2 linked regions of the Homo sapiens genome follow. The protein of the gene in region 1 purifies or fractionates together with the protein of each later gene. This does not show direct contact. Each region holds a gene or a part of one and is shown on either strand. Other genes may lie near its edges. The genes, in order: TSPYL5 and ZFP91.

The links.
Region 2: the proteins of TSPYL5 (region 1) and ZFP91 purify together in Homo sapiens (affinity purification with mass spectrometry; one large-scale study listed by BioGRID and IntAct). This does not show direct contact.

What each region holds. Positions count from the first base shown.
Region 1 is NC_000008.11:97,274,966-97,279,513, forward strand, and holds the start of TSPYL5 (testis-specific Y-encoded-like protein 5), read right to left. Parts: upstream 2,964-4,548; 5' UTR 2,880-2,963; coding exon 1,626-2,879; 3' UTR 1-1,625. UniProt on the Homo sapiens protein: Involved in modulation of cell growth and cellular response to gamma radiation probably via regulation of the Akt signaling pathway. Involved in regulation of p53/TP53.
Region 2 is NC_000011.10:58,610,063-58,613,876, forward strand, and holds part of ZFP91 (E3 ubiquitin-protein ligase ZFP91), read left to right. Parts: intron 1-235; coding exon 236-272; intron 273-887; coding exon 888-992; intron 993-1,541; coding exon 1,542-1,676; intron 1,677-2,215; coding exon 2,216-2,266; intron 2,267-2,699; coding exon 2,700-2,778; intron 2,779-3,814. UniProt on the Homo sapiens protein: Atypical E3 ubiquitin-protein ligase that mediates 'Lys-63'-linked ubiquitination of MAP3K14/NIK, leading to stabilize and activate MAP3K14/NIK. It thereby acts as an activator of the non-canonical NF-kappa-B2/NFKB2 pathway.

The sequences.
Region 1 (4,548 bases):
AGGACTGCTGAAAGTGGGAAAGCTGGGGATTGAGGTCCAGATGGCCAGAGGCTACCACAAAGGAGGAAACAGCAGGAGGCACTTGGGTCTTAGGAAGCATTAAAACAAAGTCAAAACAAGAGTAAACACTAGTCTATGACATGGCTGCCTTGGGGTTTATAACTCAAGCAGATGCTAGGCATGAAAAGGATTTTCAACTTCAGAACTGTAGAGCAAGCGCAGGAGACAGGTTCAGGGTTTGCCAGCAGATCCACTTGGCCTTCTGGTTTCCTCAACTCTCTTTCAACCTAGTATGTGTGCGCAGTGCCAAGTTCTCAGCTACCTCCCCAGCTGTATGTAGAAAAATGTGGTTTTTCAGTTGTTTTCTCTGTGGTACTATTTAAACAAAATAAAAAAGAATAAGGAAAGAAGGAAGGGGAAGGCAGAAGGGGAGGAAAGGAGGCTACCAGGAAAGGGAGGGAGGAAAGAAGAATGAGAGGGAGGAAATGAGGGATGAAGGCAGGCAAGCAAAATAAGAAGTATAAGTGACCTGAAGTCAAGCAAGCAGAGGCCCACAAATCAGAAATACCTCTTCCCAGAACCCCTACTATGGCACTCTGCTCACATCTTAGACGGGAATAAGGGAAGTTGACAATGGTATCTGGATTCTATATAGGCCCAGTCCTCACCCTCACCTGGAGCCACAGCATAATGACAGTGAACACATGTCCACACATACCAGCCCGCCCATCAGTCTGGCAGCCAGTAGGGTTCCTGGAAAGCTGGGGAGGGTAGGTGTGTGTCTCATGCACTGGTAGGGGGCCTCGGTCCACAGGCAGTTCTTGAGGTCCTTGTTGACCAGGAAGCCAACTGGGGCTGACAGCAACCCAGACAAAACTTAATGGCTTGATAGTGACACGGCATGGCGCAGATCTTGATGAAAGTTCACCAGTAGAAGGGCCCAGAAGCAAGAAGAGACACATGATGGTACAGAACACATGGCATACTGTTTCTTGCCCTTAACTTCATGCATGCCCAGCAGTCAAGTGCCATTCTGCAGAACATCAAGCAGGATGGGTATCACAGACCACAGGCCAAAGCCAGAAATAAAGCAGGTGACATCTCAGCTGGTGACCCCAGACCCACAGAACAGGAAGTTCTGGCTGATGACTAATACCATGTGCACTGGCTTCATTCTGCAGTGGCAATGGAAACGCTTGCATAGATGACATGCATGGCCAGCATGAACACGAAGCCCAGCAAGTCACTGGCCCTGAAGGAGCAGAGCTTGAGGATGCACTGGTCGTCCTGGAGGATGACTCATGAGTGTCCATGTTAAAGACAAGTAGGAAAGGCCAGAGCCAAGAACAAGGTCCAGGCAATGTAGATAACAGGGAGCACACATCTAAAGTATGTGTGCTTAACATATGAACAGTCCGGGTGCGATCACATAACATGTGACACTAACGTAGAAAAGCAAGAGGCTATGGGAGGCAAAAGAACATGATCATAAATGCCATATTCTTGTAACTAAAGTCCAAAGGGTCTATAGTACACAGAGGCCAACATGAAGAGAAGGCAGAGAGCCAAATATGTAGTCAACCAGGAGCAGCCCAGCAGGAGGTAGCAGGGAGACTTGTGCAGGATCAGTTGGATTGGCTCACCCCAGGCTGAGTAGTCTCCATTGGCTGCTTTCCTGGACCTTGCCTGCCTTCTTTTTCCTTTCCTTTCTCTACACGAGCCCCTTCACTCAAAAGGTAGAACTGCAAGGGATTGGGCCACAATTCTTCGTTGATTATCTCCACAATCTTGTCAGACTCAATGGAGCTGTGGTTTGAAAACCACCCAAAGAAACTACGGTTGTTTTCTGGGTTTCCCTGGCTTAGGGACTGGAGATCATGCCCTGGGAGCCACTGGATTGGAGTAGAACGAGACACCACCTGGCCAGAAGGACCACACCCATATTCCTTGATGAGCACCTTATTTTGGAAATACGGGTTGCGATCGAAGTAGAACTTGATTTTGTAGCCCAATCTGGCAAGGCCGAGCTCTTCCACTTCCAAGCTGTTTAAGTAGCTCAGTACCTCTTTCTCTTGGCTATTCAGAAAGGATGCTAGCTGGGGATGGTTCTGAAATGCTTGCCCCCAGAAGCCCGGGATATTTTGGATGAGGTGGTTCCTGCGCTCCAAGTGCTGCAGTCGCAACTGCCCAAACTTCCTGGAGAGCCGAAGGTAGGCCCTGTCCGCCTGGGCGTTCATGTTCTCCAGCTTCAGCTGCACGTTCTCCAGCGTATCCATGCTGCCTTCCGTCGCTGGGGGCCCCGACCCTGCATCCCTCTCTTCCTTCTTTTCCTCCCCAGCTGACACCGAGGTATTCTCCCCTGCCGCCCCTTTCTTCTGCCTCCCACCAGCTATGACCTGAGGCCCCCTCCCCGCGGTGCTACAGGTTTCTGGGGCCTTCTTCCCGGCAGGGCCACGCCGGTTTCCAACGCGGGGGGCATTTTTCGGCCTTCCCACGGTTCCCGCTGTTCCCACGAAGACAGTGTCTGCGGCCAGGCGCTCCGAGAGAGATGCGGCCTTCCCCGGGCCGGGCCTGGCCGCGGCCTGCCCGTGGTCCCCCGCAGCTCGGGCCCGCAGCGCGAGGCCACAGTCCAGGGGGAGCCGGCAGGCGGCCTCCTCCCCGAGCCGGAGGAGCTGCGCGGACGCAGCGGCTTCCAGGCCACCCCACCCCGCGCCAGCCTGCACCTGTGCCGCCTGGGTGTCTTCCCCGAGACTCTGGTACTGTGAAGGGTCCGGGTCGCGCGGGGCGTCGTCCGGAGCAGGGCGGACTCGGGCTTTGGCGCGGCCTTTGCCCCGGTTTTTGGCGCGGGAGGACTTTCGACCCCGACTTCGGCCGCTCATGGTGGCGGCGGAGGCAGCTTCAAAGACACGCTGTGACCCTGCGGCTCCTGACGCCAGCTCTCGGTCGGGACCGAGCGGGTCTCTCCACGGCAACCGCCGACGTCACGAACGTACAACTGTACCGTCGCGAGAGGACGTGATGCGCCCGGTGATTGGCGCCGCCGCTGCGGCTGCGCAGGAGACGACCCCCGCGGGCGCTCCCACCCCCATCTCGCGCGGACTCGCTTTAGGTCTCGGCGAGTTTCTCTGATATGCGCTCGCGGGGGTGCTGCCATTTCATCTCTTCCGCGCGGGCTCATCGTGCTCTCAGGGTCTCGTTGAACAAGGCAACGCTAAGAGCCATCACCACCTGTCCCCCATCACCTGTTTTCTAAACTAAACATCTTCAGCTCCTCCAGTTATCTCTTGTGGCATCTGTCATGAAGAAAGTGCTCGGGCGTGTGTGTCTCTCTTTGAACACCTTTGCTGAGGGATTTGCTCTGGTACCTTAACTCCAGAGAACGTAAAGGTGGATGCTATAATGCCGGGCGTCAAAGCGATTTGGTACGCAGTAAGATGATAGTAGAAATTATAAAAATAATGGCAACTAGTATTTTGTATCATTTGTGCCAGGCACTTTACTAGGTGCTTTAAATGCATTATCTCAATTTACAAAGGAGGTGTTGATATCATTCCCATTTTCGAGATAAGAAAACTGCATCTCAGAGACACCCGGGCACATTCCCCAGGTTACACAGTAAGGGATGGAAGCACAATTCAAACTCAAGCCCATGGGACTCCGTATCCTATGCCTTATATTTGGAAATGGCAAGTCCTTCCAGACTTGTTCCACTGTCAATTACTGGGCTGGCTCTTAAGAAATCAGCCTTGCTCCTTAACAAACAGGCTTCCGTGGACCACCTGACCACCTCTTCTGCCTGGGAACATCACCCGAGTCCCCCAGCTGCCTCAGTTTACAGATCTGGACTATCACTCTAGGTATAGGACCAGAAGTGAAGACCTGTATTAGAGCTCCTGTAATTGGAGTAAGACAAGAATGTGGTGAGAGGTGAAATTATTATTCAGGGAGCAGATTGAGGTTCAGAAGCAGAGCCTCCACGTGGCACTGCAGAAGCCCTAGAAACTTCTTACACTGTGCATGGAAACAGCCGGACAACCTCCCCCACAGTCCCGGAGGCAGCCCTGGACCACGCTCTTACTAGTGAGGTAATAGGACCATGAACAGTGAGGGGACCTGTGGCTAATGTAAAAATATAAAGAAAAACCTTTTGAGGTGGTCTTTTCAGGCTCAAAGGGAACAAAAAGGCCCTTGTAACCAGCTAGTGGAGAGATAAGCCCAAAAGCCCCGGGACCTCATTACTCAAAGTGTGGTTGTGGACCAGCAGCCTGATATCACCTGAAAGCTTGTTAAAGATGCAGAATCTCAGGCCTTTCCCCAGACCTACTAAGTCAGAATTTGAATTTTAACAAGATCCTGGGTGATTTGTATACACCCCTAAGTTTAAGGAAACAATTTAAAGAGGAATTATTTTTATACAGATGGCCCTATTTTAAGCCGGCCTAATACAAGTGATTCCTCATTTTCTCAAAAGCTCTAGAATAGCCTGCAAGGCCCTGTATGATCTGGCAAGTCTTCTATCTGCCACTACATGAGTTACCTCTCTGACCT
Region 2 (3,814 bases), on another chromosome or scaffold:
TGTTTACTAACTAGTTGCTGTTACATTTTAAATGTAATGTTGAACATTTGTGTTAACAGCTTAACTGTCAGGGGCAGGTTTGATGGTGTAGGTGGTATTTCTTTGAACAGTTTGCAGATATTCTGCTTTTGTATAATTACCCCATGCAGTAATTTGATTTGCATTTCTTGACTGCAGAGAGAAAATATCTTATATCTACACTAATAAAATTTTGTTTTTGGCTTTGTTTTTCTAGATGTTGGAGAAGAGCATCAGTCTCCAGGTGGCATTAGGTAAAAAAAACATTAATATTTCATTTTTAAACCTTTGGGGACATAGCATAGTCACAGTAAATGATTCAGAAGTTGCTTCCATTTGAAATTATTTTGAGCTGTAAGAGAAATTAACTTCAGTTTTGATACTGCATTTAGATTCCATGTTGAGCTTGATTAGAACTTAAACCATGTAATCTACTTACATAGCTTAGAAATCATGTCTTGAGTATCTTCTGTGTTTGGACTTATTCCATGGTAGGCACTAATGTGAAATATGGGTGTTTTGGCCAAGGTTTTGAGATTTTATTGGAATCTTTTGTGTTGTGATTTATCTGTTAGTAGGTCTTTTAATATAGCAGATCACCAGACAGTATTACAAAGTCAGTTGTTTCTTAACTTTTAATGCCATTGAGTTGTCATCACCCTGTCTTTATCTAGGATTTATGTCTTTTTAGTTTCAATTATTATTCTTTGTGATAAAACAGCTAGATTTCAGTCCAATTAGGTCATTAGGATGAAAATGCTAGATGACTTTATCAGTGTTTGGCTACCTCTTAAAAAATTACCAAATAAAATCCCCTCAGACATGTTCGCTACAACCAGAATGTCTCATTTCTATTTACTTATTTTTAGTAGTGAAGAGGAAGAGGAGGAGGAAGAAGAGATGTTAATCAGTGAAGAGGAGATACCATTCAAAGATGATCCAAGAGATGAGACCTACAAACCCCACTTAGAAAGGCATGTCTCAGATTTTACTGCAGACATGTTAATGAAATATAAGTAGGAAAGCACTGTTGCATGCTTTTATTTTATCTGTTGCCAAGCTAATGGGTATAGAATTAATTTTAAATGAGTAATTAATTATGCACTTCTTTTGTAAGTCTAACACCTTAATATACCCTGATAATAATCCTCTTTCCCATTTGTAGAACTTTATTTTGATTATATACAAGTTTTTATGAGTCTGCATGTTTTATTTCAACAAGGTATCATGAATTGCCTGAATACTTAGAATTTTTTAACTAATTGTCTCGTTTCTCTTTACAATTATAGTGAAATTTGATTTACAGGCATCTTTAGTCTGGGGAGGGTTCATTCCATGAGCAACATATACATATATTTGGATCATTACTATGCATGTGAGGATGATTGGTAGGAAATCACATTTCATGAACTGAGGAAGGTAGTTTTATAACAAATCAGTGATAACTCTAAGCTTTAATTTGTTGTCATAGTCTTCCTTGAAAAGATCTTTTGTCTAGTATTGAAATGCATTTGTGTTTTCAGGGAAACCCCAAAGCCACGGAGAAAATCAGGGAAGGTAAAAGAAGAGAAGGAGAAGAAGGAAATTAAAGTGGAAGTAGAGGTGGAGGTGAAAGAAGAGGAGAATGAAATTAGAGAGGATGAGGAACCTCCAAGGAAGTGAGTAGGCAATTATTAAAAATGAAAATCTAACAGATTTTGAACGACTAGTGGAAAAAAGAGTGGGAGTGTGAGGAAGGATGTTGACGTATACATGCTTCAAAATATGTATTTTTTAACTTAAAAAAATTTGGCCTCAAGCAGCTGACAATTTCACTGGAGAGACTCTTAGTAAAAAAATGTTTAGGTTTTTCAGTTCTATTGCAAGGAGAAGGTATTTTTTAATCTTAGTGTTTTTAGATGATACATGGTAGCAACTCTAAAAGTAATACATTGAGATTCTTCTAAGTCTTTCATAGTATTGCATAGTTTATGGAAGGTATATATTTAATCTGTCTTACAGACTGATTTGAAAGTGAAATTACTTCAGGGTAAAATTACTTGCTTGATTTGCCAGATATATCTTTGACTTTATGTATTCTTGGTTATCCTTTGCCACTTGTTCTTTGGCCGTGTGTGTGTGTGTGTGTCTTCAGCCAGCCTTCACTGTGTAGTTTTGATTCAGAATATGTCTACTGTTACCCTGTCTTCAATTACAGGAGAGGAAGAAGACGAAAAGATGACAAAAGTCCACGTTTACCCAAAAGGAGGTGAGGAATTTTTACCCCTACTGTTTTACACCTTATTCCAGTACCAGGCACTTTACTCACAAATTTAGACTTCATGATAATCCTGCAGGAATGGCTATTTAAAAATTTCACAAAAGCAACTTCACTAATGTCCTAGATGCACAGGTGTTATGATCTTATTTTCATTGTAAGAGCTTGAAATTTCTAACAATCTTAATACTTTACCTTTGGGGGGTCATTAGTTTATTTGTGTTACTTTTTAATTCTGTCAAATATTTGCTAATTCTTGGTTACTTCTAATACAAATTCTGTGTAATCTGTATAGTAGTAAAGAGATTTTAATTCTTCCTACTATAAAATAGCTATTCCCAATAGCACAGTTTAAGTCAGAGGCCACTGTGCAGAGTACCACTTTTTTTTTTTTGCTAACTTTTCTTCTGCATTTTGATAATAGAAAAAAGCCTCCAATCCAGTATGTCCGTTGTGAGATGGAAGGATGTGGAACTGTCCTTGCCCATCCTCGCTATTTGCAGGTCAGTGAAGTTGTTATATAAGAGCCTTTCAGGTTGTGTTCCATTACTTGTTCTTGCACCACGAGACTTTAATTTGTTGGCTTGTGTAGGCTTTATCATTGACATGTAATGTCAAGAAAAGTCTTTCTTTAAACATAAAATGACTTTAACCCATTTATGCCTAGTGTTCCATTATTAGAATGCTAAGCTTGGGCAAGTTATTTATATCCTACTGTTCAAGGTCATCACCAAGGTCTGATTTTTCACAAAAATACATTTGCAACCTCCAGCATAAATGGGTTAATCATGATTAGTCCATTTGTGCTGCTATAATAGAGTACCTGAGACTGGGTAATTTACAAAGAACATATATTTATTTATTAGCTTGTGGTTCTGGAGACTGGAAAGTCCAAAAGCATGGTGCCCACATCTCACAAGAGCCTTTTAACTGTGTCAGCCCATGGTGGAAGGGCAAGAATGGGTTGAACTTGCTTTTGTAACAAATCTACTCCAATGATAATATCAACCCATTTATATAAGGGTAGAGCCTTTAAGACCTAAGCACCTCCCATTAGGTCCCGCCTTCCAACACTATCACATTGGGGATTAAGTTTCCAACACATGAACTGTGGTGAACACATCCAAATTCATAGCACCTCCTGTTTAAAAAGAGGTGACTAAGAATCTGAACCCACATAGAGAACTTTCGTTGGAATCTTTCAATATTACAGTAATTCCCAATGTGGTGTAAATACAGAGTAACATTTTATTTTAAAGTGATTTAGAAAAAAAGTAAAATTAGAACTCAAACCTGTGATTTCTTGGGTACTGTGTAGAATGAATAAAAGACTTTTAGTTGAGGTTTTGTTTTTATTTTTCTTGAGTAGATTATTATTATTATTTTTGATGAGTAAACGTACCACTTATATTTAGGTCTGGCAGGAAACGTGAAAGTGAAATACTGCTTAGGAAATACCTGTTTGATCTTCAGCAACAAATATAACATGACACGAAGGCCTTCTTCTGGATCGTGGTTCAGTTATAACAATAGCCGCTC